Regions from separate parts of the Homo sapiens genome. Here all the other regions are reported to be linked to region 1. The links are microRNA targets in miRTarBase. Many come from high-throughput screens and were not tested one by one. Region 1 holds a microRNA gene; each other region holds the end of a gene's coding sequence.
The links. The annotated mature microRNA hsa-miR-18a-3p reads ACUGCCCUAAGUGCUCCUUCUGG and lies in region 1 at 4,585-4,607, shown strand. An mRNA with a match to its seed (bases 2 to 7 or 8) in the 3' UTR can be bound and repressed. Matches are read on the target gene's strand: a 7mer-m8 pairs with bases 2 to 8, a 7mer-A1 pairs with bases 2 to 7 and ends in A, and an 8mer does both.

Region 2: miRTarBase lists RNF187 as a target of hsa-miR-18a-3p. Seed matches in the 3' UTR shown: 7mer-m8 at 3,971-3,977.
Region 3: the mRNA of TXNL4A is a reported target of hsa-miR-18a-3p. Seed matches in the 3' UTR shown: 7mer-A1 at 3,726-3,732 and 7mer-m8 at 4,087-4,093.
Region 4: the mRNA of DALRD3 is a reported target of hsa-miR-18a-3p. The part of its 3' UTR that is shown has no 7-base or 8-base seed match.

What each region holds. Positions count from the first base shown.
Region 1 is chr13:91,346,213-91,354,209 of GRCh38, forward strand. MIR18A (microRNA 18a) reads left to right here and starts at 4,539; the gene lies at 4,539-4,609. It overlaps MIR17HG (miR-17-92a-1 cluster host gene), which reads left to right and starts at 1,475. Exons shown (of 3, transcript NR_197388.1): 1 at 1,475-1,747; 2 at 3,486-3,558; 3 at 3,944-7,997. It overlaps MIR17 (microRNA 17), which reads left to right and starts at 4,393; the gene lies at 4,393-4,476. MIR19A (microRNA 19a) reads left to right here and starts at 4,679; the gene lies at 4,679-4,760. It also overlaps MIR20A, MIR19B1 and MIR92A1. RefSeq lists enhancers at 964-1,043, 2,513-3,060, 3,061-3,608 and silencers at 1,144-1,923, 1,974-2,963.
Region 2 is chr1:228,491,192-228,499,188 of GRCh38, forward strand. It overlaps RNF187 (ring finger protein 187), which reads left to right. Exons shown (of 4, transcript NM_001010858.3): 3 at 1,862-2,083; 4 at 2,692-4,997. The coding sequence ends at 2,694. Among named protein-coding and RNA genes, the nearest start is that of RNF187, 7.8 kb to the left of the region's middle. RefSeq lists an enhancer at 1,683-2,628.
Region 3 is chr18:79,968,438-79,976,434 of GRCh38, reverse strand. It overlaps TXNL4A (thioredoxin like 4A), which reads left to right. Exons shown (of 3, transcript NM_006701.5): 3 at 2,579-5,622. The coding sequence ends at 2,750. It overlaps HSBP1L1 (heat shock factor binding protein 1 like 1), which reads right to left. Exons shown (of 4, transcript NM_001136180.2): 4 at 5,613-5,995. The coding sequence ends at 5,984. Among named protein-coding and RNA genes, the nearest start is that of HSBP1L1, 7.8 kb to the right of the region's middle.
Region 4 is chr3:49,011,942-49,015,836 of GRCh38, forward strand. DALRD3 (DALR anticodon binding domain containing 3) reads right to left here. Exons shown (of 12, transcript NM_001009996.3): 11 at 3,863-3,895; 12 at 3,547-3,766. The coding sequence ends at 3,647. WDR6 (WD repeat domain 6) reads left to right here. Exons shown (of 6, transcript NM_018031.6): 2 at 1-2,175; 3 at 2,269-2,352; 4 at 2,442-2,558; 5 at 2,659-2,777; 6 at 2,884-3,895. The coding sequence ends at 3,347. Among named protein-coding and RNA genes, the nearest start is that of DALRD3, 4.7 kb to the right of the region's middle. RefSeq lists an enhancer at 1,652-2,489 and a silencer at 2,284-2,413.

The DNA.
Region 1 (7,997 bases):
TGAATAACTCCTGCTAAGAAACCTGTATATAGGTGGGATTTCCCATGATTCAGAGAGTGTGATGAACAATCTTACTCACAACATCCCCCCGCCTCAACCATTCTAATTTGAAACAGAAGATAAAGTTTTAAAGAAAAAGGCATTGACATATTAGTCAATGCCGACCAAAAGTAACGTAAAATTAGACTTGTAATAAAATTAGCAGTGTTTTCCTCTTTGAAACGTTCATAAATGACTATATTACAGAAATATTAGATATTGTAAAATTTCAGATTTGGCCTTTTATTTTGATTTACAAAGAAAGGAATATCTAGAAACTAGACTCAATAAAAAAAAGAGTAGCAAAACTTTAATCCACTATTTTTTATGTCATCACTAGTTTGACAATTGGATTTAAGCAAAGCATGATAAAATAAGTCAAAGACAGTAAATGACAATACTGTCAAGGTTTGAATGTCAAAAATTTTAACATTGGGGCATTAAAGACATCCTTTGGTAATGTGTGTTTTACAGTTGACTTGTACAATCACGAACCAGTGATATGTGCTTTGCAGTAGCTACTTACTAGATTTAAACCAATTTATAATTGCTGTATTTCTCGTAAATGTTATGAATCCTCACTTTTAACAATTATGTTTCTGAGAATTCCGGAATTTCCTGAACCACAATGTGAAGAAGGAGGTGCTCCTGATTGGGCTTCTTTTCTCAGCTTTGTGGTTGTTTATGAGGTTCTTTCCGAGCTATGCTATTTCTACTGGAGAACCCAGAGTTCTTACTAAATGCAGCTGGGCATGAGAGGGGAGGCTCAGGTACTGCAGCTGTGAAACCTCTGCTCGGGCATGCGTTTTGGTTTACACGCGGCCAGGTTAAGGAAACACATTGCCACGAAGTGTGCATTCACAAGAGTGTCGGGTGTAATGTATTTATTTCTGGGTCTCAAACGATCTTTGCAGCGAGTAATTCTGTTTCGATGTTAAAGTCACTGGATTTTACTTCTCTGGTTCCGGTTGGCCTGGAGCAGGCCCCTAATTACCTCGGAAACCCACCAAGGGCCGGTAAAGTAATAAACTGTGATCGCACAGCGTACACGTCGAGTCCCAGGGAGAGCAGGGCTCCCAGGAAGCCCCGGGAAGCGTGCGCTTCCAGGAGGGTGTGCGGCGCGCGGGGGTCTGCACGCGCGCAGAGCTTGTTAACGGAGGGCGTGCCGGAGGCGTGGCGCGAGGTGTTCGGGCGAGGCGCTCCGCGAGGCTGGCGGCGGTGGGCGGGCCACGGGGGAGCGCGGCCCGGGGAAGGCTGCGCGGCGCCGCCAGCGGCTCCCGGCTCCCGCTCTCCCGGCCGCCAAGAACGAGCCGCCGTGGGCGGGGCCTGCGGTGATTGGCGGGCGGGCGGGGAGGTCGGAAGTACTTTGTTTTTTATGCTAATGAGGGAGTGGGGCTTGTCCGTATTTACGTTGAGGCGGGAGCCGCCGCCCTTCATTCACCCACATGGTCCTTCGAGGTGCCGCCGCCGCCGCCCGACCTGCGCCTTCGCGCCACTTCGCGCCCTCGGGCGAGGCCGAGGGGGTGGGGACGACTACCGCAGCGCCGCCGGGGCTCGCGCTCCTCCGCGAAGCTCTCCTCGCGGGGCGGGCCGGCCGGCCGCACCCCCGGCCTGGGGCCTCCGGTCGTAGTAAAGCGCAGGCGGGCGGGGAGGCGGGAGCAGGAGCCCGCGGCCGGCCAGCCGAAGATGGTGGCGGCTACTCCTCCTGGTGAGTCTGCCCGCCCCTCCGGCGACGGAGGGAAACCTGTTGTGTGCGGCCCGGGTCTGGCGGGCGGGGCGGAGCGGCCCGGGGCGGACTGGCCCGGGGCAGCGTGGCGGCGGCGGCGTGGCCGGGGCGGGTCTCGGCCGTTGGCCGCCCCGGCGTGTGGCAGCCGCATCTGGCTGCCCCCTCGCTCGCCCGCGGGCCGGCGGAGGGGGGCAGGGCCGGGGCGGGAGGGTGGGAGGGGGCGGCGTGCGCGTGGCGGCCGCGCCCGGGACCCGCGCAGACCCTGCCTGGGCCGACCCGAAGGCGGGTGGGCGGACGGCGAACACAATGGCCCCTCGGGGAGAGGACGTGCGAGGCCCGTGCCTTCTCCGGGGCCCGGGGCGCGCGCGGGGCGTGGGGTCTCTGGGTAGGAAAGTTTCTCCCGAGGGCGAGAGTTAAAGCGCCTCCAGAACAAAGCGGCGGCGGCGGCGGCACATGGGGCAGGCCGCGGGCCGGGAGGGGGCGCGCCCACGAGGTACCTGCGCGCCAGCGGGCGGCGTGGCGTGGGCGGGAGCCCGCGGTTCCCCAAACTTTGTACGCGCGAGGGTGGGCGGAGGGGCGCCGAGATCGGCGCGGCCTGGGCGCCACCCCCGCTCCGCGTGGGCTTTGTTAGCCCGCGTGGGCAGCCTCGGGGCGGGGCCCGCAACTTCCCCGCCGTGGCCCTCGGAGGAGGCCGCAGTCGGCCTCAGCCGCGGCGTGGAGCCGCCTGCGCCCGGCCGCTTGCTGGGAGTGTGGCGCGGGAGGGCCAGCCCGGCTCGGCGGGAGCGGCGTCCCCGCCGCCATGTTCCTGCGGGGCGGGCTGCACGGGGGTGAGGGCGGGGGACATGGCGGCGACTGCGCGCCGCCGCCGATTGTTCCCGGCTTAGGCCTCGGGCCGCGTGCGACGGGCACCGCGGCCGCGGAGCCCCCGCCCCTCTGGGCCGGGCTCGGGGGGGCTGGGGGACACAAAGGAGGGGCGGCGCGCCCGCGTCCCCGCCGCACTCGGGCCTCGGCGCCGCCGGTCGCCGCGCGGCTGCCGCCGGGAAACGGGTTGGGGGGGTTGCCGCGTCCGGCGGGGCCTGACTCTGACCCGCCGCCCCCTGGCGGCTACGCGGAGAATCGCAGGGCCGCGCTCCCCCTTGTGCGACATGTGCTGCCGGCCCGGGCTCCATGAGCGTGGCGGGCACTTTGCAGTCTCGGGTGTTCCTGCCCGGTCTTCTGTTCCTAAACTGCAGCAAAGGGAAAAGGAACTGAAAAAGGCAGGCTCGTCGTTGCAATATCACCAAAAGAGAAAATTAACGGCATGCCATCAGGACCACAGCAGTTGGAGAAACAACTCTTTATCCCGGCTTGCAGCCACGAGGTCTTGATTGGGGGAGGGGTGGTGAAGAATAGTCTGTGGGCTGCTTTTTTTTTTTCCTTTTACTGGAGCTGTACAGTGGAGTCGGTGATTGCTGCTGATCATAATCAAGTATTTTAGGAGCTTATTTAGACATGTATCTGATAGCTAAGGATTTTTCAACTTTATTCTCTTACGTATTTTTCAACTGTAAATTATTGGGCTTTTAAATCCTGCTAGTATTGCTCGACTCTTACTCTCACAAATGGATGGAATTAATTGCTGTTAGGAGGTTGGAAAATAGCAAATATAGATTTGGACGGTGGTAGTAATTTTGAGCAAATAATGTTTTATCTTTTTTTTCCTTATTTTTCCCTATTCCAGTCATACACGTGGACCTAACTGCACCAGTAGCTTTTCTGAGAATACTTGCTGAAAAGGAAGTTTTCTGGAATGGGTAAGTGTATTCTGATTTTCTTGAACTTTTCTTAAAAACAAATTTTTCTTGCTATTAAAGTTGAATAAATAGGATTGGTTTCTTAGAGAGTAAAAGTAGGTGTTTCTTTCTTTAGACAATGTACCTTTTCTGAAAAACTAACTCATTAAGTACGGATTTGCTAATTTTAAGGTAGTAAAATTACAGTGTAAATATTCCTGTACATTTTTGGAAACTGGCTTATGCAGTTTACGAAATATAATTTTAGACCCTCTTTTAAGTTGGGTGATAAAGTAGATATAACCTGAGATGATAGATTTAAACAGGATATTTACGTTCTGCTACAATTGACTGATAACACTTGAAGTGTAGTCTGAACAGTAATTTTGTTAATCATTTCAACAAGTATTTGCTAAGTGGAAGCCAGAAGAGGAGGAAAATGTTTTGCCACGTGGATGTGAAGATTTCCTCTAAAAGGTACACATGGACTAAATTGCCTTTAAATGTTCCAAAATTAGTTCTCATTTATTTGCAGTCTCATTTTGTTTTGTTTTTTTTCTCTATGTGTCAATCCATTTGGGAGAGGCCAGCCATTGGAAGAGCCACCACTTCCAGTGCTAGTTGGATGGTTGGTTATGATTGCCTTCTGTAAAGAATTCTTAAGGCATAAATACGTGTCTAAATGGACCTCATATCTTTGAGATAATTAAACTAATTTTTTCTTCCCCATTAGGGATTATGCTGAATTTGTATGGTTTATAGTTGTTAGAGTTTGAGGTGTTAATTCTAATTATCTATTTCAAATTTAGCAGGAAAAAAGAGAACATCACCTTGTAAAACTGAAGATTGTGACCAGTCAGAATAATGTCAAAGTGCTTACAGTGCAGGTAGTGATATGTGCATCTACTGCAGTGAAGGCACTTGTAGCATTATGGTGACAGCTGCCTCGGGAAGCCAAGTTGGGCTTTAAAGTGCAGGGCCTGCTGATGTTGAGTGCTTTTTGTTCTAAGGTGCATCTAGTGCAGATAGTGAAGTAGATTAGCATCTACTGCCCTAAGTGCTCCTTCTGGCATAAGAAGTTATGTATTCATCCAATAATTCAAGCCAAGCAAGTATATAGGTGTTTTAATAGTTTTTGTTTGCAGTCCTCTGTTAGTTTTGCATAGTTGCACTACAAGAAGAATGTAGTTGTGCAAATCTATGCAAAACTGATGGTGGCCTGCTATTTCCTTCAAATGAATGATTTTTACTAATTTTGTGTACTTTTATTGTGTCGATGTAGAATCTGCCTGGTCTATCTGATGTGACAGCTTCTGTAGCACTAAAGTGCTTATAGTGCAGGTAGTGTTTAGTTATCTACTGCATTATGAGCACTTAAAGTACTGCTAGCTGTAGAACTCCAGCTTCGGCCTGTCGCCCAATCAAACTGTCCTGTTACTGAACACTGTTCTATGGTTAGTTTTGCAGGTTTGCATCCAGCTGTGTGATATTCTGCTGTGCAAATCCATGCAAAACTGACTGTGGTAGTGAAAAGTCTGTAGAAAAGTAAGGGAAACTCAAACCCCTTTCTACACAGGTTGGGATCGGTTGCAATGCTGTGTTTCTGTATGGTATTGCACTTGTCCCGGCCTGTTGAGTTTGGTGGGGATTGTGACCAGAAGATTTTGAAAATTAAATATTACTGAAGATTTCGACTTCCACTGTTAAATGTACAAGATACATGAAATATTAAAGAAAATGTGTAACTTTTTGTGTAAATACATCTTGTCTTGTTTTCATTCAAAAACATTTCACTTTTGGGGTTGCGTGTCAGATTTGGCAGTATAAATTCTGGCTATATTTTTTGTTGTTAGATTTATTTGGCTGTTAAGTATTGCGATATGACTAAACATACTGTATACCTGATGATCATCTGTAAAGTTAGAGTATATCTTTTTGCTTTCTTTGGAGTTAGTGTTATTCCAGGATATTTTACTTAATCTAAAAGTTAATTTATGTTGCTCATATATTACTCAAGTATTTAAATTTAGAGAGAATGCCGCTCTGTTTAAAGCAATGTGTAAAGATGAGTTTTTTTAAGCATGGAATTTAGGGTTGGGGTACAATTTGTTTCTATTAAGCAAGTACCAGTTTACCAATACATGAGTAACTGAAGTGTAACTGTTAAATGCTTGTATACTAGTTTTTCTTTCTGATTGTCAGTGATTTATAAGCTATAAATGACCAAGGTCCTCAGACTGCTTTTAGCATCTGCAACTTAAAAAAATGGGAGTTAGAAAAAGAACAAATGCTAAATAGAGTAACAGTTAAATGTATGTGTACACTCTTCCCAAATGCCAAGAGTGCAGCGGTGGGGTGAGATTCAGATATTCATTTATTTCTAAGTCTGTAGTTAACATTTATGTTCCCTACTCCCTACGTAAGCCAGACTTTGGCAACAGTGATAGTTGATTCCAGGCTTATTTGACTTAAAGTCACTGAAGTGGAAACTAAGAAGTGGCAGTTAGTGTTTTACCCAGCATTTCTGCCTTCTCTCTTTTCTTCATGTGTTTTTGTCTCTAGCCTATGTGTATTTGTGTAGAATAATGTGGGATACCTGAATAATAGATTTAAAAGGACCAAGTGGTAAAATTGGGCCCAAGCTGAAGTACAGGCAAACTTGATGTTTGAAAGATAAGTTTTGAGAAATGTCATTGTATTTTGGAGTAAAAGAGGCTATCTTAGTAATAAGAAATAAACTTCCATAACACTAGGTTAGACCACCCAATAAATCTAGAAATCAGCTTTTAAAAATATTGTCTGAAGTCTAACAAAAGTTTTCACCTCTAATGTGTTCTTTAAGAAATTTAAGGAACTTAGCCTTGGATTCCTGAATAGAAAGGTAAGAATTCTATCATTCTGGAGTTGATGAAAACATAAATTTTCAGGATGTGAAATGAACAGTGATTTATAAAATGGAAATCAAATTGTACATTAGCAGAGTTCTTAAGCTTTTTGAATTGAAGGAGACCTAATAATTGTGTCTTTTTGGTTATTTAGTGACAAACGTGGCTTTCAAACTATGCTTAAAAAGTTCCGGCTGGACACGGTGGCTCACACCTATAATCCTAGCACTTGGGGAGGCTGAGGCAGACGGATTACCTGAGGTCAGGAGTTCGAGACCAACCTGGCCGACATGGTGAAACGCTGTCTCTACTAAAAATATAAAAAATTAGCCGGGTGCAGTGGCGTGCACCTGTAATCCCAGCTACTCTGGAGGCTGAGGCAGGAGAATCACCTGAACCTGGGAGGTGGAGGTTTCAGTGAGCTGAGATCCTGCCACTGCACTCCAGCCTGGGCGCAAGACCAAGACTTAAACGCAAAAAAAAAAAAAAAAAAAAAAAAAAAGTTTCATAATACAGCATGGTCTGGTAGTTTGCAAAATGGTGTGCTTTTGGGGAGATACACTAGCAATTTTTTTAAAAACTGGAACAGTGTGATAGGAAGCCTGCTGGATGATTTCTTAAATATTCTAAAATGTAAGTCAAATATGTTTTAATAACAAAGACTTAAATGGCTTTTCTCCCTAGAGACTGAAACTAGTATTCATTGTGTTCAGAACTTAATTGGGCTTGAACTGAGATTTAAATCTAATAAACAAGTTAATAAATGTGTATGTTTTGTTGTGGGTTTGGTAGTGATCTGTGGTTCTATAGGGTTTAATAGGAATTGCTTTTGATTTGTTTCTGGCTTTAGAATGTGAGGCAAATTTTACATTCTTGGTTCTATTAAGATTTTCTTAGGCATGCTAACATGCCAACAAAAAGCCATGTAAGTATTGTATAAAAAGATTCACATTGTTAATTTAGCCATTTTGAAATTCAGATGAGTGAGCAAGTTGATAATGGCCTCATCTCTGACCTGAGAAAAAACAACTTTGACCCTTGTTCTTAAAATGCTTTAACCTTGAAGTTGCTTGAGACTTAAGAGGTCATGTTGCTTTAGGTTTAATAAATAGCCTTAACTATTTGGAGGGGAAAAAATGGGTCAACTTTTTTTTTTTTTTTTGGCGTTTGCATGTACAACTTTCTATTTTTAGCCTATATTTGGAAAGAAAGCACTTAACATTTTAGGAATTCTTTTTAAAGCTGCTTGCAAAGTGTTGGTGATTTTACTGAAAACTTTTGAGATCTTCATTTTACAGGCAGACCTGTCTAACTACAAGCCAGACTTGGGTTTTCTCCTGTAGTTTGAAGACACACTGACTCCTGACAAAATGCAGCCTGCAACTTCCTGGAGAACAACTCAGTGTCACATTAAAGTTTATTATGTATTTAATGATACACTGTTTAATTGACAGTTTTGCATAGTTTGTCTAACTTTAGAGAATTAAGAGCCTCTCAACTGAGCAGTAAAGGTAAGGAGAGCTCAATCTGCACAGAGCCAGTTTTTAGTGTTTGATGGAAATAAGATCATCATGC
Region 2 (7,997 bases), not on the chromosome of region 1:
CCAGCCTGGGTAACATAGTGAGACCACCATCTGTACAAAAATTAATAAATTAGCCAGGTATGGTGTTGCATCTGTGGTCCCAGCTACTTGGGAGGCTGAGGTGGGAGGATCACTTAAGCCCAAGAGGTTGAGGCTGCAGTGAACTGTGATGGCACCACTGCACTCCAACATGGGTGACAGAGTGAGGCCCTATCTCAAAAAAAAAAAAAAAAAAAAAATAAAGGGAGATGGGTTAATGGGAGAAAAAACATAGGATTTTTTTTTTTTGAGATGGAGTCTTGCTCTGTTGCCCAGGCTGGAGTGCAGTGGTGCGATCTTGCCTCACTGCATCCTCCACCTCCTTGGTTCAAGTGGTTCTCCTGCCTCAGCCTCCCGAGTAACTGCGACTACAGGTGTGCACCACCACGCCTGGCTAATCTTGTATTTTTAGTGGAGATGGGGTTTCACCATGTTGGCCAGGCTGGTCTTGAACTCCTGACCTCAAGTGATCCAACCACCTCGGCCTCCCAAAGTGCTGGGATTACAGGTGTGAGCCACCGTGTCCAGCCAGGCATATTAATTTAACACAAGTTTTATACAGCACAGGCTCCCTTATAATGAAATGAAGACTCAAAGTGGCAAAATTAAATCACTTATATACTGACTTGGACAAAGACTAGCCACTTGTAAAAAAGCAACTACATGATGTGGGGATGCTTGAAAGAGTTGTTTTCACAAGGTCTGTACCAAATTCTGTCGGCCTTGACTTCCTGTCGTCCTTGATGATAAAATCATTTTATTTGATATGGGGAGGGCGTCTTTCACTTGGGAATTTCATTTGCTTTTAAGAAGCAGAATGGAGGTCAGGGTGATCTTGCACTGTTTTTTGATTTTTTTTAAAAAAGGCCTTGCTCTGTTGGCCCAGGCTGGAGTGCAGTGGTATGGTCATAGCTCACTGCAGCCTCAAACTCCTGGGCTCAAGCGATCGTCTTACCTCAGCCTCCCGAGTTGCTGGGACCATAGGTGTGCACCACTATGCCTGGCTAATGTTTTTGATTTTTAGTAGAGACAGGTTTTCACTGTTGCCCAGGCTAGTCTCGAACTCCTGGGCTCAAGCAATCCTCCCACCTCAGCCTCCCAAAGTACTGTGATTACAGGCATGAGGCACCGTGCCAGGCCTCTTCTGTTATTGTTTTTTTTTTTGTTTTTTGTTTTTTTTTGGCTCACCGCAACCTCTGCCTCCCAGGTTCAAGCGATTCTCCTGCTTCAGCCTCCCAAGTAGCTGGGACTACAGGCGTGCGCCACCACGCCCAGCTAATTTTTATATTTGTAGTAGAGATGGGGTTTCAGCAGGTTGGCCAGGATGGTCTTAATCTCCGGACCTCATGTTCTGTCTGCCTCAGCCTCCCAAAGTGCTGGGATTATAGGCGTGAGCCCCCGTGCCTGGCTTTTTTTTTTTTTTTTTTTTTTTTTGAGATGGAGTCTCGCTCTGTCGCCCAGGCTGGAGTGCAGTAGCATGAACTCGGGCTCACTGCAACCTCCGCCTCCTGGATTCAAGTGATTCACCTGCCTCAGCCTCCCGATTAGCTGGGATTACAGGCGTGCCACCACGCCTGGCTCATTTTTGTATTTTTAGTAGAGACGGGGTTTCACCATGTTGGTCAGGCTGGTCTTGAACTCCTGACCTCATGATCCGCCCGCCTTGGCCTCCTGGAGTGCTGGGATTACAAGCGTGAGCCACTGTGCCTGGCCTAATAGTCGATGTGCCTGAGCAGCATGTTTTGGAGTGGCATGTTCTTAACTCCTTCAAGAGCAAACAGGTTCCCCTTCCCCTGGGGAGGGTGGGTGAGGACACAGGTCTTTTCCTGCCACCCGTTTGCAGGGACACGTGATGGACCGTAGGAAGAAGGCACTGACCGACTACAAGAAGCTGCGGGCCTTCTTTGTGGAGGAGGAGGAGCATTTCCTGCAGGAGGCTGAGAAGGAGGAGGGGCTCCCTGAGGACGAGCTGGCTGACCCCACTGAGCGGTTCAGGTCACTGCTGCAGGCGGTCTCGGAGCTGGAGAAGAAGCATCGCAACCTGGGCCTCAGCATGCTGCTGCAGGTGCGGGAGCCCCGCTGGGTCTGCCCACCATCGGGCCAGGGTGGACGCAGGCAGCAGCGAGCCATTGGGGGACCATTGCCCGAAGTCAAGGCTTAAAAGCCCAGCCTGACTCCCACTGCCGTGGCCTTGCAGGGCTGAATTTCGGGAATGGGTGGGTGGTCAGGGAAGGTGATGGGAAGGGGTTTTAAGTTGAGGAGGGTCTGAGGTGTCCCTGACCTTCACAAAGGAGGGCACTTGGCATCCCGAGTGCCCGAGCATGGAAGGCTCCTGCCTCGCCCTGGGGTCCTGAAGGCAGAAGCAGCCAAGAAACCCAACCTCAGGGCTTTTCTTCTGCCTCTGCCCAGGGCCTGGCCTGAACCCCAGACCCTGCAGCAACCCAGATGGCCCTGAACGGTTCAGTTGCCCGTGCCAGCCATAGGTGACAAGGCTTTGGCCCTGGGGAGACGGAAGTCTGGGCCAGGCCCTGGGTTTGTTGTGCTCAGGACAGTACCTCATGCGCTGTCTCATGTGCGCTCTCTCTTTCGCTCTCTCCTTTTGCCTCTGTCTCTGACTCTGTGTGTCTCTTTCTCTTTTTGTCTCTCTGTCTTTCCCTCTCCCCTCCCATGCAGTGATGGCGCCAACCCGTGGCAGTCCCAGAGCTGGAGGCAGGAGGATGGATCCTCATCTCCATGGGAAGTGTCAGCGTGTGGCTGCCAGGGAAGCGTGGCAGGCGCCTGGCCTTGGGTCCATCTACATAGTTGCGTGTTTCAACAATGTCCATTTATCCTTCACCCCGAGGCGTGTTTTGGGGGCTGCAAACACCTCCCGGTAGAGGCTGGACCTGAGGACCCTTCCCACCTGTGCCCGTCCCTTCCTGAAGTCCTAGCCACAGCCCATCCTCCATGAGTCCCGGCAGCTCTGGGTCATGCCCTTCCCTGGTCACCCATCTGCCCCTCACCTCGTCATCCAGGGACCCAGACCCTGCACCTTCCATGTGGGCCCACAGATCCTTGGCAGGTACCTGAGGTGCACCATTGAGTGTCGGATTTGGGGTTAGCATCCAGAAAGAAGAATGCGCATGACGCTCTGTGAAGGCTGGAACTCAGGTCTTCAGGGAGAGAAAGGAAGACTGGATTGCACCTTGATGCCTCCTGAGGAGGCGGCCCCCCTCTTGAGGTGGGCGTGGGCCCGGCCCAGCCTTATCCAAGTCGCTCTGTCCACCTCCCCCTTCCTGGCCCCCACCCCACTCCTGTGCCTCCCAGGAGCCCTCCCTGTGCTCCACCTGCCTCCGCAGAAGGAAGCCTCTTTCTCTGTTTCCCTGGGTGAGGGGGCTGGCAGGTGGCTAACCCCATTTAGCATCTCCAGGCCCTGCCATCGTGTCTCATCTTGCTGTTATCTCTAGCTCTTTCCCTCCTCCCATTTCCTTTAGTAGTTGAATTTTGCAAAGCTTGTAGCAGTAGCTCAGTTGCCTGCAGCATCCTTGTGTGTAGATAAATTAGTCGACAGAAACTCAGCACTGGGGACAGGATTGCAAAGTCGGGGACATAGATGCAGACAGTTGTTGAGATTTGGGGATAGCCGGGCTTGTGAGCGGTGCCCATTTCCAGATGAAGCCTTTCAGCCCTTCTGAGTCCCCGGCCCTTGGTGCGATGTCTGTGAGTTTGACCTGCCCAGCGTGTGGGCTGGCTCAATGCTGAATAAAGTGGGTTTGTGTCAGCTCGTTTGCTTCGTCTCCGTGTGTCCACCTGGCCTCTTCCCCCTGCCCTGGCCACCCTCCAGTGTCAAAGGAAACTTCCTCGTGACACGTGCTAAAGCATGGTGAGGAGGACTTTGATTGGGACCATTGAGATGGGTGTGGGACCCTTTCCTTGGGGCCTGGGGGGAGATGGGGCTCCACCCCGACGTAGCAGGGCAGGGGTTGGAGGAGCGAGGAGCAGTATAGGGTCCATGGGTGGGAATGACTGTGAGGAGACATCAGGGCTGAGGGGGCTCTGGCTAAACCCACCTCACAGAGTCCTTGCTGCAGGCAGGCAGGGCGATCAGACATTGGCTGCAAACGGTCAGAGAGGAACCCAGTCAGGTACCATTGAGGGTGGTCAGATATTATGGTTAACCAAATTAGGGTTCTTGCTAAAACTGGATTTCATAAGAAAGGGCAAAGAGGGCCCTAGGAGAAGATTCCAGAGCCTGGCCAGAGTTTGGCCAAGTAGAGAATCTTTGTCAGCACGCCAACAACATCCCGACCCTGAGACCTCCAGTTTGTCTTTCTCACTGTCTCCGCCTGCTGCAGTCTGCTGTCATCCCTGAGCATCCCTGCCCCTGCCCTGCACACCTGTGATGCTTGCCCGGACAGGTCCTGATGGCAGAGTCTCCCACAACATCAGTGTCTCCACATCACCAGGTCCGACAGTGGCTTCACCATCCTCACCTAACCTAGCTGACCAGCAACATCCCACCCTGTCAATCACAACCTCTTTCTATTTAAGAAAATTATATATTTATGGGGCACAGTGTGATGTTTTGATATCTATGTACATTGTGGAGTGACAGATTAATGTATCCATCTCATGTTTTTTTTGGTGGTGAGAATATTTGAAATCTACACTCAGCAATTTCAAATACAGTCATCCCTCTGTGCCTAAGGGGGATTGGTTCCAGGACCCCCTCATGGATACCAAAATCTGCAGATACTCAAGTACCCTGCAGTCAGCCCTCCCTCTGCACATATGTGGGACAGTCAGATACAGAGGGCCAACTGCGTACAGTACACGGTTATCAGCTGAAGTCACCATGCTGTGCAATAGACCTTGAGTTTATTCTTGTATAGCAGGGACTCTGTACCCTCTGACTAGAATTTCCCCAAATCCTCTTGTCTCAGCCCCTGCTAACCACCGTTCTACTCTCTAATTCTATAAATCAACATTTTGATTCCACATATAAGTGAGATCATGTGATATTTGTCCTGTTCCTGGCTTATTTCACTTAATATAAATGTCCTGTAAATTCACCCATGTTGCAAATGGCAGGGTTTCCTTTTTTATGGCCAAATAGTATTCCATGATGTGTATACACCACATTTTCTTAAGCCATTTATCCACTTTATCCCTTTATCACTTTGCTTCTAGACCACGTAGGTTGATTCCGTATCTTGACTGTTGTAAAAGTGCTCTTAAGAAACACAGGAGTGTGGGTATCTCTTCCATATATTCATGTCGTTTCCTTTGGGAAAATACTTAGCAGTAGGATTGCTGGGTCACGGTACTCTTTTTAAGTTTTTGAATAACCTCCATATGCTTCTCCATAATGGCTATAATAATTTACATACTCACCAACATTTATTTTCTTTGAAATTAGTCATTCTAAGAAGTGTGAGATAATCTCATTGTGATTTGGTTTACGTTTCCCTGATGATTAATGATGTTGAGCATTTTTTTATATACCTGTTGGCCATTGGTATGTCTTCTTTTGAGAAGTGTCTCTTCAGGTTCTTTGCTCATTTTTTAGTCGTTTATTTGCTTTCCTGCTATTGAGTTTGAGTTCCATGTATATTTTGGATATTAACCCCCTACTTAATGTATGGTTTGCAAATACTCTATCCCAATTTGTGAGTTGTCTTCACTCTGTTTATGATTTCCTTTGCTGTGCAGAAGCTTTTTAGCTCTATGCAATCATGTATGTTTATTTTTCTTTTGTTGCTTGTGCTTTTAGGGTCATATGCAAGAAGTGATACAACCCTGAAACCTAGGCCAGTGTCATGGAGTTTTTCACCTGTGTTTTCTTCTACTGGCTTTACAGTTTCAGGCCTTACAATTAAGCCCTTGTCTGTTTTGAATGGATTTTTGTGTAGGGACATTCCCTCCACAAGGGCTTTCTCTGGCCTTGCTGATGCTCCTCCGTCTCCCTTGTGTCCTCTCCACTCCACCCTCTTCATGTGGAAGAACCCTTGGCATCCTCGTGTGGCCTCTCTGTCCTATCCAGCCCCCCATGGTGACCTCACACTTGCCTCTCTGACGTGGGTCTCTCTCCCAAACCCTCTTCCAGGTCCAACCACTGCCTCCATCCCAGACTTGCCCAGGGGCCCAATCCCTGCAGTCCTCAGACATCTCAGAGCTGTCTCTGAGTTGTTTTCTCTAACAGTCCACAATAGGTCTGCAAAGGAATCCTGCAGGCTCTTCCTGTAGCCAAAGACCTTGACCTCATCTTACCTGCTCCCCGCCAGTCCCCCACCGTGGCCCACTGGCACTGTCCTCTTCTGCCCAGGAGACCTGGGGACCTCATCTCCTCCCGCTGCTCCAACAATGCATTCTCAACCCAGCAGGTAGATGGGTTTCTACTTTAAAATATGTAGGATGAACCAGTCTGGTGATCCGATGTACAACAGGAGGAATGTAGGTAATAAAATTGCACTGTTTTGGGAGTTCCTGCTAAATGACTAGACTTCAGCTGCTCTTGCCACAAAATCCTAAAAGTGGTTGACTCTGGGAGGTGATGGGAATGTTAATTGCTCCCCTGTAGTGACCATTTTGCTATCTGTTTGTACTTTGTAACATCACGTTGCATACCTTAAATATACACAATGAAATTTATTAAAACAATGAAAATAAAAACTAAGCAAGAGCCTGCCCCTGCTGTACTCAAGGCCCTGCAGCAACTCAGATTCATTCCGGGAAAGCTTCGCAGTGGCCTGGGAAGTGCTACATAATCCACCCCGAGCTCTTCCTCTCTCGTCACCACTGTGCCCCCTGCTCCCTGCAGACCCAGCATGATGGCCTCTCTGTTCTTCAGCAAGCCAGGTGGGCCCTGCCTCGGCCTCTGATCTCCAGGGAACATTTCTCCCCCATACCTGTGTGGCGGTTGCCCCTCTCCTTCAGGTCTGCTCCCACAGGGTGTTTTATAGAAATGGCTTGAAACAGACGCCCTTCCTCAGCCCTTGACCACGCAAGCTCTGAGGAGCCACTGGTGTCCCTGTGGCTTTGCTGCAACCAGATCTCTCTGGTCAAGGGCAGCCCTAGGCAGGAGGATCTCCGAGGCTGGCTGTGGGTGACATGTGGAAGGAAACTGAGGCCAGGCACTGCATAGAAAAGCAACAGTTTGTTTGCTGGAAGGTAGGGGACACATTCTCAAGACACTGATGTATTTGTCCAGTAGCTCAATACTTTTTTCTCAACTCTTATTTTCAGAGCTTTGTGGGAAAGCCGTGGATAGTTGGGACCCAAAGGTCGTTTTCAGTTTCAGGATCCTGTGGCCAAAGAGAGGAGATAAAAATGCTTGGGGCCATTTTACCTTCTACATTACCTAACTGAGTAGCTATTATTTCATGAGGTTGACAGCAGCAAAATATAAGGAGATGCTTAAACTATTTAGTAACTGGAGAATCATAATTAAAACCATAATGAGATACTGCTTTAGCTCGGGGTGGGTTGGGGCGGGGGTGGTTCGGGCGGGTGGTGGGAACTGCAGCACTAGGTGATGTTGAAGTCTGAGTGATGATGGCACATTAGGTGAGCCCAGAGGTGCTGTGAGGAGTGTAGAATAAGGCCGCTGCTTTGGAGTGCAGTCTGGGGTCAAACTAAAAGGCATACCTTGGAGAAACCATGGGTTTGCTTCTAGACCATTGCAATACAGCAAATACTGCAATAAAGCAAGTCCCATGAAATGTTTGGTTTCCAAGTGCATATAAAATGCTTTTATAGGCTGTAATGTAGTCTACTAAGTATGCAGTAGCATTATGTCTAAAAAAGCCAATGTATGTACCTTAATTTTAAAATACTTTGTTGCTAAAAAATGCTAATGATCATCTGAGTGTTCAGTGAATTGCCATCTTTTTGCTGGGGGAGGGTCTTGCCTCAATGTTGGTGGCTGCTGACTAATTAGGGTGGTGGCTGCTGGAGTTTGGGGTTGCTGTGGCAATTTCTTAAAATAAGACAATGAAGTT
Region 3 (7,997 bases), not on the chromosome of region 1:
CTGAGGCCACTCTGCTGCCAGAGACCCAGTTACCCTCAAAGCCAGCACTGGCATGCCGGCACATTGAGAACTTTTCACACAGGTTCTCTGACCTGAAAAGTTCTGCCTGAGAAAATGCTCTGGTTTTAGAGGACTGTGATAAGATTAGACTTGCCCAAATAATCCAGGATAGTGACCTTGTTTTATTTATTTATTGAGATGGAGTCTCACTCTCACCCAGGGTGGAGTGCAGTGGCACCATCACAGCAAGCTTGAACTCCTGGCTTCGAGCCATCCTCCCGCCTCAGGCTGCCAAAGCGTGAGGCACTGCCGTGGTTCTGGGCGTCGGGATACGCTCCCCTGGACACGCCCTTGGCTTCCTAGGTGCCTCCTGTTAGGTTGAGAAGATCTGTGAGGTGCACCCTGCATTTCTTGTGAACTTTTCATCTTTCCTAGGTTTCAGCAAAGGTTGCGTGGCTGACCCTCATCCTTTTCTCTACTGTGTGTTCAGCAGCCATTTCTGAATTTCAGCCCCTTTGGCCATCCGGAGAGGCTAAAGAATTTATTCCTTTTGTTAACAGTTCTTACACTAATTTGCCTCTTTCCTCTCTTGAAGGCAGCACCTCCGAGACTTTGCTTGGAAGTTTCCGCAGCTAAATATCCCGAGTGTGTTGCTTTTGAGCTCTGACTTCCTATAACTGCGGACCCCGTGTCCCTGTTCCTCGGCCACTCTGTAACGGGGGTCCCCTTTTCTCCGTTTCCCAGTAACACACTCCTCACTTCCTTCCAAGCCCACACCAGGTGTTCCTGAAGTCCATATTTCTGTTAACAGCCTGTTCGAGGCAATAGAGGCCTTTTCTATTTTGCCCCTCAGAATTCTTCAGGTGAGAACAGGGAGGGCCGTCTTAGGTCTCTGCCCCCCACAGCGTGCAGTGGAGGCCAGCCTGGGGCTGGAGATGCTGTGAGGGGCAAGGAGGCTGCAGGCAACAGCCTTGGGTGGCGGGAGCAGCCTACTTAGTGTAGTTTGATATTTTTAGGACTGATGCTGTACTCAGAAAAGGAGATGAAACTTCCTTCTGCTGTTTCTGTGATTTAGAATTTTAAGACAAACGGTACTTTAGTTAACTTATGCACCAAACATATATCTTGAGCCCCCACCAGGTTTGTGGTCTAGTGGTGGAGCCTAATGTCAGATAAGACAGGATTCCCACTCTCATAGGACGTTGTCTGATAGAAACAGCTGAGTAAATTAGCAGGGGGTTCTGAAGAAGTGAAAGGAGGCAGATGTTTATGAGATATAAATACCGAAGAAGTACACCCAGGTCAGATAGGGCTGCAGGGAGGGTGCTACGGGCAGCCCCCAGTCATTGTAGAAGGAGCTTGGTGCATGCTGCATGTAGGGCCTGCCTGCAGCATGGAGAATGAGAGGGCGGCCAGAGGTGGGCTCCAGACCCTGATCAGATTTGCCTCTCCTGAACCAGAGACTTCACGGGGAATACTTTCTACGGAATAGTAGGTGGAAGCCAAATGCATGATCTTGTGGAAGTGAACGTTAAAAAACAGTCTTTAGGTGGGGTATGCCTGCAGCCCAGCCACTCTGCAGGCCGGGGTGGGACTGGAGCTAGGGGTTTGAGTCCGGCCTTAGCAACATAGCTCGCATCTCTAAGAAAAATAATCAGGCCGGCACAGTGGCTCACGTTTGTAATCCCAGCACTTTGGGAGGCCGAGGTGGGAGGATCACTTGAGGCCATGAGTTTGAGACCAGCCTGGCCAACATGGGGACACCCCATCTTTACAAAAAACTAGAAATTTATCTGGGTGTGGTGGCTCGTGCCTGTGGTCCCAGTTACTTAGAGGGCTGAGGTGGGAGGATCATTTGGGCCAGGAGGTTGATTTTGCCACTATGCCCTAGCCTAGATGACAGTGAGACCCCATCTCAAAAAGAAACTTCAACAAACCAGGATAAATTTATGCCAGTACAACAAAGGGTTAATATCCTTATCTTGTAAAGTGCACATGAGTATTCATGAGGAAAAGAACTAGTCTCTTGAAAGATAAGTAAAGAATTATCTACTTCCCTAACCATAAACATGCAAAATGTCATCTTCATTTCATAGTTGAAGGGCTTTTAATACAATTTATGTCATTGCTCATAAGAGCACTGTGAAAAACTTACACATTGCTTTTATCAGGTAAATTAGTACAAATTAGATGGGGGTCTCATTTTGTTATCCATGTTGATCTCGGACTCCGGGCCTCAAGTGATCCTCCTGCCTCAGCCTCCCATAGAGTTGGGATTACAGGCATGAGCCACTGCGCCTGCCCTCCTTTGACCTTTTAATTTCCCCTTAGAATAACTGTCCTAAATAAATACAGAAAAATGCAGGAAAGAGCATGGTGGACAATGCATTGCATCTTTAAAAACACATTTAGCTGCTTCCTGTATTCTCCTGCATCATGGCATACACTCTCGATTTTATGCGTTCTTCAGTGATGTTAACAAGAGCTTGTCACAGTGGGAAAAATACGGCATTGTTTTCAAGGAATTCTTTTTTAAAGAGACTTCTATGAGAATGGATGCCCTTGTTTCTCGTTGCAGGAACAAGCACATCATGATTGACTTGGGGACTGGCAACAACAACAAGATTAACTGGGCCATGGAGGACAAGCAGGAGATGGTGGACATCATCGAGACGGTGTACCGCGGGGCCCGCAAAGGCCGCGGCCTGGTGGTGTCCCCCAAGGACTACTCCACCAAGTACCGCTACTGAGGCGCCCTCAGTCTGCGCGGATAAATGTCGTGGAGCCCTTTTTGTATGGAAACGTTTTAAGCTATTTAAAGCCTTTGGAAAATACAGGAAGCTCCAGGGCTGGAGCACCTCTGAGATGGAATTGATAACATGGTCTTAACTCACCGAAATAAACAAGCACGTGGTGAGAGGAGCAGGCCTACTTGTTTGTTCTCAGGAAACTTAATGAATAGATTACTGATTTTCCTAGTCAAAGTTAATTCTTACCCTTGGAGTAAAACGAAGGTGTTTATCCTGTGAGCCTGTGCGTTTTGCATACTGGGTTGGTTTGCTGGGGCTGCGGTGACAGCATATGCCGCGAGCTGGGCTTTAACAGAGATGTGTGCTCTCACAGCTTTGCAGGCGGGGGTCTGAGATCAGGGTGTCGCGGGTGGGGGGTCACTGCTGAGGCCGTGAGGGGAATCTGCTCAGGCCTGTCCCTGGCTTCTGGGGGCTGCTGGTGGTATTTTCAGTTCCTTGGTGTGTGGATACTTCGCCCCATCTCTGCCTTCACCTGTGTCCTCCCTGTGTGGGTGCTGGTGTCCAAAATTTCCCCTTTTCGTAGTGACACCAGCTGTGTTGGATTGGGGCCCACCCTGCTCCAGCATGGCCTAATCTTAACTAATTACATTTGCAAGGATCTTATGTCCACAAAAGTCACAGTCTGAGGTGCTGGGGGTTAGGACTTCAATATATAAATTTTGCGGTTACACAATTCAATCCATGACAGAATCCAAAGGTTTACTCTGGTTATAAAAACAGTACAATAAAATATTGTTTATAGCCTTCCCTGTAAGGAATAGGAGAGCTATTTTTTATTCTTCCCAAGATTGTATTTGATGTAAACATATTTTCTGTAGAAGCCATGGCCCTTCAGTTCATATAGTTAGAAAATTTCCTTATTGGCCAGGCACGGTGGCTCACACCTGTAATCCCAGCACTTTGGGAGGCCGAGGTGGGCAGATCACGAAGTCAGGTGTTCGAGACCAGCCTGGCCAACATGGTGAAATCCCGTCTCTACTAAAAATACAAAAATTAGCTGGGCATGGTGGCGCGTGCCTGTAATCCCAGCTACTTGGAAGGCTGAGGCAGGAGAATTGCTTGAACCCGGGAGGTGGAGGTTTCAGTGAGCCGAGATCACACCACTGCACTCCAGCCTGGGCAACAGAGCAAGACTCCGTCTCAAAAAAAGAAAAGAAAATGTCCTTATTACAGTCTCAGGTTTCTCTTGCCCTCTGTCATCCTAGCAGTGTGGATGGTTGGTTGGGATCTTCGTGTCCCGTCTCAGCACACTCGAGCTCTGAAGTGAAAGTGAGGAAGGGCAGGGATGGGGGCACTTGAGCACACCGTGGGCCCTCTGACCTCAGACCCAGGCTCTGCCCCACCAAGTGACCTTGGGCAGGGTACCTTCTCTGAGCTTTGTTTCCTCCTTGGTAAAGGCGGATAATAGTGTCTGCCCTGCACACAGATGTGGACGCAGAAGCACGTGGTGCCTGCCGGGCACAGGAGTGGTGCACAGGGCTCGCTGCTGTCGGGAGATTGATTGCTGTTGTGGAAACGGGAGGGTACTTACAGAATGAAGCACATTTTTTACATACAGTACAAATGAGTGTGTGCTTTTTAAATGGATTTAAAATTCAAATGCAAATCTGCAGTTTAATCTCCCAAGTGCTGATTTTTCTATGTATAAAGTAGGAGAGTGCAACAGCGTATCGGAATGAGGGGCTAGGGAGAACGTGTATGTGACCTCGAGTACCTGGCATGTAACAGACACTCAGTATTACACTCCTGCTATTTCTCCAGAGCAGGTGAAACAGACGGCCAGGAAGCACACGAAGAGACACTCAGCATCACTGCTTGTTAAGGAAGGTGCAAATCAAAACCACAGTGAGACGCCACTTCACACCTACAAGTTCGGCTAGATACAAAAAGATCGCAACAAGCGTTTGCAAGGATGTGGAGAAATTGGAGCCCTCACACACTGCTGGTGGCAAAGTGGTAACACAGGCAGGCAGGTCGTCAAAAAGTTAAACATGGGCCGGGTGCAGGTGTCTCAAGCCTGTAATCCCAGCACTTTGGAAGGCTGAGACAGGCAGATTGCTTGAGCCCAGGAGTTCACGACCAGCCTGGGCAACCTGGTGAGACCCTGTCTCTACAAAAAATACAGAACAATTAGCTGGGCATGGTGGTGCGTGCCTGTGGGCCCAGCTACTCGGCGGGCTGAGGCAGGAGGATCACTTAAGCCCCAGAGGTCAAGGCTGCAGTAAGCCATGGTTGTGCCACTGCACTCCAGCCTGGGCAACTGAGCAAGACCCTGTCTCAAAAAAATAAAAAAAGATAAACATGGTGTTACCATTTGACCCAGCAGTTTCATACCCAGGAGAATTGAACGCATATGTCCACATAGAAACTCGTACACAGAAGCCAAAATGTGGAAACCCACGTGTCCATCAACAGATGAACGGTTAAACAAAATGTCCATCCATAGAACGGAATATTATTCAGTCATAAACAGAATGAAGTACTGTAAGTGAAAAGCCAGTTACTACATATTGTGTGATTCCATTTATACGGAATTTCTAGAATAGGCACATCCATAGAGACGGATTAGTGGTTGCTTAAGACTGGGAGGGAGGGGGAAATAGGAGGTGACAGCTAATGGGCAGTTTTATTTTTGATGTAATGAAAATGTGCTTACATAAGCCGAGCAGGCATAAACAGAAAAAGTGCCCTAAGATTGTGATAATGGTACAATTCTGTCAATTGCATAATTGGTGGATGATGTGTGAATTATGTCTCTTAGGATAACAGCTTTACTGGCGTTACCAGAAAAAGATAAAATAATTACATTCCACATTTGTAAGTTTATTGTATATTTATTGTAAATGTGTTGCATATTGTATTAGTCTGCCCAGGACTGCCATAACAAAATACTTCAGATTGGGTGGTTTAAACAACAGAAACTTGTCTTTTCACAGTTCTGTTTTCTGGAAGTCCCAGATCAAGGTGCTGGTCCGTGTGATTTCTGGGGAGGGCTCTCCTTGGCTTGCCGATGGCCTCCTTCTCTGGTGCAGGCACGGAGGGGAGAGCAGGCGAGCCCCTTGCGTCTCTTCTCAGAAAGACGAATCCTGTTGGATGAGGGCCCCACCCTCAGGACCGATGTAACCTTAATGACTTCTGTAGAGGCCCCATCTCCAAATACAGACATGCTGCAGTTAGGTCTTCAGCTATTTAGGGAGACATAAACGTTCAGGCCGTAACTCCTATCAGGTGTATTAAGTATGTTCACCCCTGATTTTAATAACGTTCTCACTGGTGCTTTGTGGCTGCAGTACAGTTGAAATCATAATGATTTGGACTCTGTATTTCAAGTTTATCTCATTATGTACCTGCTGTCTACCTTGCCCTGACTTAAGTGCTTTGCAAGCAATTTTCTTAAATCCTTACAACCACTTACCAGGTAGATATTTGGCAGAGAAGAAAACTAAAGCTTAGATTTCCCCAGGTTACAGCCAGCAACAGAGGATAAGAATTTGAAACCTAGGCCTGCATGGCTGCCAAGCCTTGCCTCGTCTGTGGCACTGTGGTGCTTTAATCAAGTTGGATATACTAGTGGCTCTCTGGGTACCTAGTGAATTCTATTTCCCATCTCCCCAGGATGGCTTCTAGGCAAAGTCCAGAAATTACTTGTGGCAGCTAATGCAGGTGACAAGCCCCTAGGTACAGAATAACCAAGTCCCCTAGAGAAACTGGCAACGTGTACACAAAGAAGTAGACAAGAATAGTGCAGCATTGTTTGGAAACAATATTAGTCAAATATAAAGTAAATCATCAGAGGACTATCAGGCAGCAGTTGGCGACTGACCTAGAGCGACACGTGTCGACATGAATCTCAGTACTGAACAAAAAAGCAAGGGGCAGAAGGCTACAGAGTATGGGGCCACTGACATACTGCTTTAAGACTTTCAGAATAAACGTCTGAAGGTTATGATGCCAGTGTGTCTGCAGGAAACTTGGTTAGGTGTCTGGGGGAAGACTGCCTCTGCTCTGAGCGCACGCAGAGAAGGGATGAGGACTTCAGTCCACCAGCAGAATCAGAGCACTGCCATCTCTGCCTACCTGAACAGACCACACCCAAAAATTAAAATGCAGGGTGAATTCACGGCTCACCAGCTTTCTGACCTGGAGGTTCAGAGGATCCCTGGGGAAGCATCCGCGTGGGCACAGGTGGGAGGACCTGCTCAACGTGGGCGCTATTCTGCATCGTTTTTTTTTCTTTCTTTCTTTCTTTCTTTCTTTCTTTCTTTCTTTCTTTCTTTCTTTCTTTCTTTCTTTTTCTTTCTTTCTTTCTTTCCTTTCTCTCTCTCTCTCCCTCCCTCCCTCCCTCCCTCCCTCCCTCCCTCCCTCTCTCTCTCTCCTCTCCTCTCTCTCCTCTCTCTCCTCTTTCTTTCTTTCTTTCTTTCTTTCCTTTCTTTTCTTTCATGTTGTCTCGCTCTGTCGCCCAGGCTGGAGTGCCGTGGCACAGTCTCGGCTCACTGCAAGCTCTGCCTCCCGGGTTCACGGCATTCTCCCGCCTCAGCCTCCCAAGTAGCTGGGACCACAGGCGCCCGCCACCACACCCGGCTATTTTTTTTTTTTTTTTGTATTTTTAGTAGAGACGGGCTTTCACCATTCACAGGATGGTCTCGATCTCCTGACCTCGTGATCCGCCCACCTCGGCCTCCCAAAGTGCTGGGATTACAGGCTGAGCCACCGCGCCTGGCTTCTGAATCATTTTTTCTGTTATTTTTACTAATGGCTTTAAACATGCCTCTGATCCTAGCATTCTTTTGTGGCATGTTTACATTCAGCATCAGAAGCTGTGAGAATGCCTACAGTGCCCTGATGAGGTTCGGGTTGCACTGGGTGGCCTCAGATGCCCTGCAGAGGAGGCACTTTGGGAGGCCGAGGCGGGTGGATCACCTGAGGTCAGGAGTTCGAGACCAGCCTGGCCAATAAGGTGAAACTCCGTCTCTACTAAAAATACAAAAACTAGCTGGGTGTGGCCGGGCGTGGTGGCTCACGCCTGTAATTGCAGCACTGGGAGGCCAAGGTGGGTGGATCACCTGAGGTTGTGAGTTGGAGACCAGCCTGGCCAACATAGTGAAACCCCGTCTGTACTAAAATACAAAAATTAGCTGGGTGTGGTGGTGCATGTCTGTAGTTCCAGCTACCTGGGAGGCTGAGGCA
Region 4 (3,895 bases), not on the chromosome of region 1:
CTCAGTGGTGCTATATGACCCTGTAGTAGGGTGCATCCTGCAAGAGGTGCCCTGCACAGACAGGTGCACCCTCTCTTCAGCCTGCCTGATTGGAGACGCCTGGAAGGAGCTGACCATAGTGGCAGGTGCTGTTTCCAACCAGCTCTTGGTCTGGTACCCAGCAACTGCCTTAGCAGACAACAAACCTGTAGCACCTGACCGACGAATCAGTGGGCATGTGGGCATCATCTTCAGCATGTCATACCTGGAAAGCAAGGGATTGCTGGCTACAGCTTCAGAAGACCGAAGCGTTCGTATCTGGAAGGTGGGCGACCTGCGAGTGCCTGGGGGTCGGGTGCAGAATATTGGGCACTGCTTTGGGCACAGCGCCCGTGTGTGGCAGGTCAAGCTTCTAGAGAATTACCTTATCAGTGCAGGAGAGGATTGTGTCTGCTTGGTGTGGAGCCATGAAGGTGAGATCCTCCAGGCCTTTCGGGGACACCAGGGACGTGGGATCCGGGCCATAGCTGCCCATGAGAGGCAGGCCTGGGTGATCACTGGGGGTGATGACTCAGGCATTCGGCTGTGGCACTTGGTAGGGCGTGGGTACCGGGGATTGGGGGTCTCGGCTCTCTGCTTCAAGTCCCGTAGTAGGCCAGGTACACTCAAGGCTGTGACTCTGGCTGGCTCTTGGCGACTGCTGGCAGTGACTGATACAGGGGCCCTGTATCTCTATGACGTCGAGGTCAAGTGCTGGGAGCAGCTGCTAGAGGATAAACATTTCCAGTCCTACTGCCTGCTGGAGGCAGCTCCTGGTCCCGAGGGCTTCGGATTGTGTGCTATGGCCAATGGGGAAGGTCGTGTCAAGGTTGTCCCCATCAACACTCCAACTGCTGCTGTGGACCAGACCCTGTTTCCTGGGAAGGTGCACAGCTTGAGCTGGGCCCTGCGTGGTTATGAGGAGCTCCTGTTGCTGGCATCGGGCCCTGGCGGGGTAGTAGCTTGCCTAGAGATCTCAGCCGCACCCTCTGGCAAGGCCATCTTTGTCAAGGAACGTTGTCGGTACCTGCTGCCCCCAAGCAAGCAGAGATGGCACACATGCAGTGCCTTCCTACCCCCAGGTGACTTCCTGGTGTGTGGTGACCGCCGGGGCTCTGTGCTGCTATTCCCCTCCAGACCAGGTCTGCTCAAGGACCCTGGGGTGGGAGGCAAGGCTCGGGCTGGTGCTGGGGCACCTGTAGTGGGTAGTGGTAGTAGTGGGGGTGGGAATGCTTTCACTGGGTTGGGCCCAGTGTCTACCCTGCCCTCTCTGCACGGGAAGCAGGGTGTGACCTCAGTCACATGCCATGGTGGCTATGTGTATACCACAGGGCGTGATGGAGCCTACTACCAGCTGTTTGTACGAGACGGCCAGCTCCAGCCAGTCCTAAGGCAGAAGTCCTGTCGAGGCATGAACTGGCTAGCTGGGCTCCGTATAGTGCCCGATGGGAGCATGGTTATCCTGGGTTTCCATGCCAATGAGTTTGTGGTGTGGAACCCTCGGTCACACGAGAAGCTGCACATCGTCAACTGTGGTGGAGGGCACCGTTCGTGGGCATTCTCTGATACTGAGGCGGCCATGGCCTTTGCTTACCTCAAGGATGGGGATGTCATGCTGTACAGGGCTCTGGGTGGCTGCACCCGGCCACACGTGATTCTCCGGGAGGGTCTGCATGGCCGTGAGATCACTTGTGTAAAGCGTGTGGGCACCATTACCCTGGGGCCTGAATATGGAGTGCCCAGCTTCATGCAGCCTGATGACCTGGAGCCTGGCAGTGAGGGGCCCGACTTGACTGACATTGTGATCACATGTAGTGAGGACACTACTGTCTGTGTCCTAGCACTCCCTACAACCACAGGCTCAGCCCACGCACTCACAGCTGTTTGTAACCATATCTCCTCGGTACGTGCTGTGGCTGTGTGGGGCATTGGCACCCCAGGTGGCCCTCAGGATCCTCAGCCAGGCCTGACTGCCCATGTGGTGTCTGCGGGGGGGCGGGCTGAGATGCACTGCTTCAGCATCATGGTTACTCCGGACCCCAGCACCCCAAGCCGCCTCGCCTGCCATGTCATGCACCTTTCGTCCCACCGGCTAGATGAGTATTGGGACCGGCAACGCAATCGGCATCGGATGGTTAAGGTAGACCCAGAGACCAGGTAATATATGCTCCTGGGCAGGGTGTGGTATGGGTCATGCAGATGCTCCCAGGCTTGCAGGCTCCACCTGACAGCTGCATGTTGTCTCTGCAGGTACATGTCCCTTGCTGTGTGTGAACTTGACCAGCCCGGCCTTGGCCCCCTTGTGGCTGCAGCCTGTAGTGATGGGGCCGTAAGGTGAGAGCATAGGGCCCAGTGGGACAGGAGACAAAGGAAGTAAGGTTGTCTAGGATGCGTTCTGAGCTGGGCCACCCCCCGCCCCCCAGGCTCTTTCTTTTGCAGGATTCTGGGCGGATTCTGCAGCTCCTTGCTGAAACCTTCCACCATAAGCGATGTGTCCTCAAGGTCCACTCCTTTACACACGAGGCACCCAACCAGAGGCGGTGAGAGGGGCTGGATGATGGTCCTGCATGGGCTGGGTTGGGGGGTTCCTGTTGAGCTTCATCTCTGTTATTGACCAGGCTGTCTTTTCCTGGCTCTCAGGAGGCTCCTCCTGTGCAGCGCAGCTACTGATGGCAGCCTGGCTTTCTGGGATCTCACCACCATGCTAGACCATGACTCCACTGTCCTGGAGCCTCCAGTGGATCCTGGGCTTCCCTACCGTGAGTAGCTAATGTGCAACCATGGCTACCCCTCCTCACCTGTCACATAGCCCTCACACATGTGGCAGGCGGGGCCCTGACAACTACCCTCTTCCTCTTCCTTCAGGGCTTGGCACCCCCTCCCTGACTCTCCAGGCCCACAGCTGTGGTATCAACAGCCTGCACACCTTGCCCACCCGTGAGGGCCACCATCTCGTGGCCAGTGGCAGTGAAGATGGATCCCTCCATGTCTTCGTGCTTGCTGTGGAGATGCTACAGCTAGAAGAGGCTGTGGGAGAGGCTGGGCTGGTACCCCAGCTGCGTGTGCTAGAGGAATACTCTGTCCCCTGTGCACATGCTGCCCATGTGACAGGCCTCAAGATCCTAAGCCCAAGCATCATGGTCTCAGCCTCCATTGATCAACGGCTGACCTTCTGGCGTCTGGGGCATGGTGAACCCACCTTCATGAATAGCACTGTGTTCCATGTGCCTGATGTGGCTGACATGGACTGCTGGCCTGTGAGCCCTGAGTTTGGCCACCGTTGTGCCCTTGGGGGTCAGGGGCTTGAGGTTTACAACTGGTATGACTGAGGTATCCTGCGGTGGCTGGCGTGCTGGGCATGGGGCCTGCTCACAGACAGCATGGAGCAGGGATGGGCTGTCTGTGCCCATGCTCAGCATGCCTTGAGGGGAGGAGGTGGTGGCCGTGGGTTCCTGATGTCGGTGCAGGAGCTGAAGGTGAGTGGAGTGCTGCCAAGAATATGCCCGACTCCCCATGACAAGACAGAACTTTGTAACAAACAGTACCAATTTATTTTGGCCGTGGGTTTTTGCTTTTTTTCCAGTTGATGACTTTGTGAACATTCCCAGGTATTGGAGCCTCTGTGGCCTTAAATGTGGCTCAGTGGAGGGAGACCCAGCATAGCCAGGCCAGTATGGAGCACCTCACGCACAGCTCTCAGAAGCTGCAGGCGGACGAACATCTGACCAAAGAGGTGTGGTCGAGGCTCCTGAAAGAGAAAGGGCCTGCTGGTCTCATCCTCTGCTTCCTTTGCCTTTACCCTATACCTCTCTGCACGTCCCACCCCATTTTGCTGTGTGCTCACCCCCAGGATGTGTACCCGGTTGTAGTAGGAGCT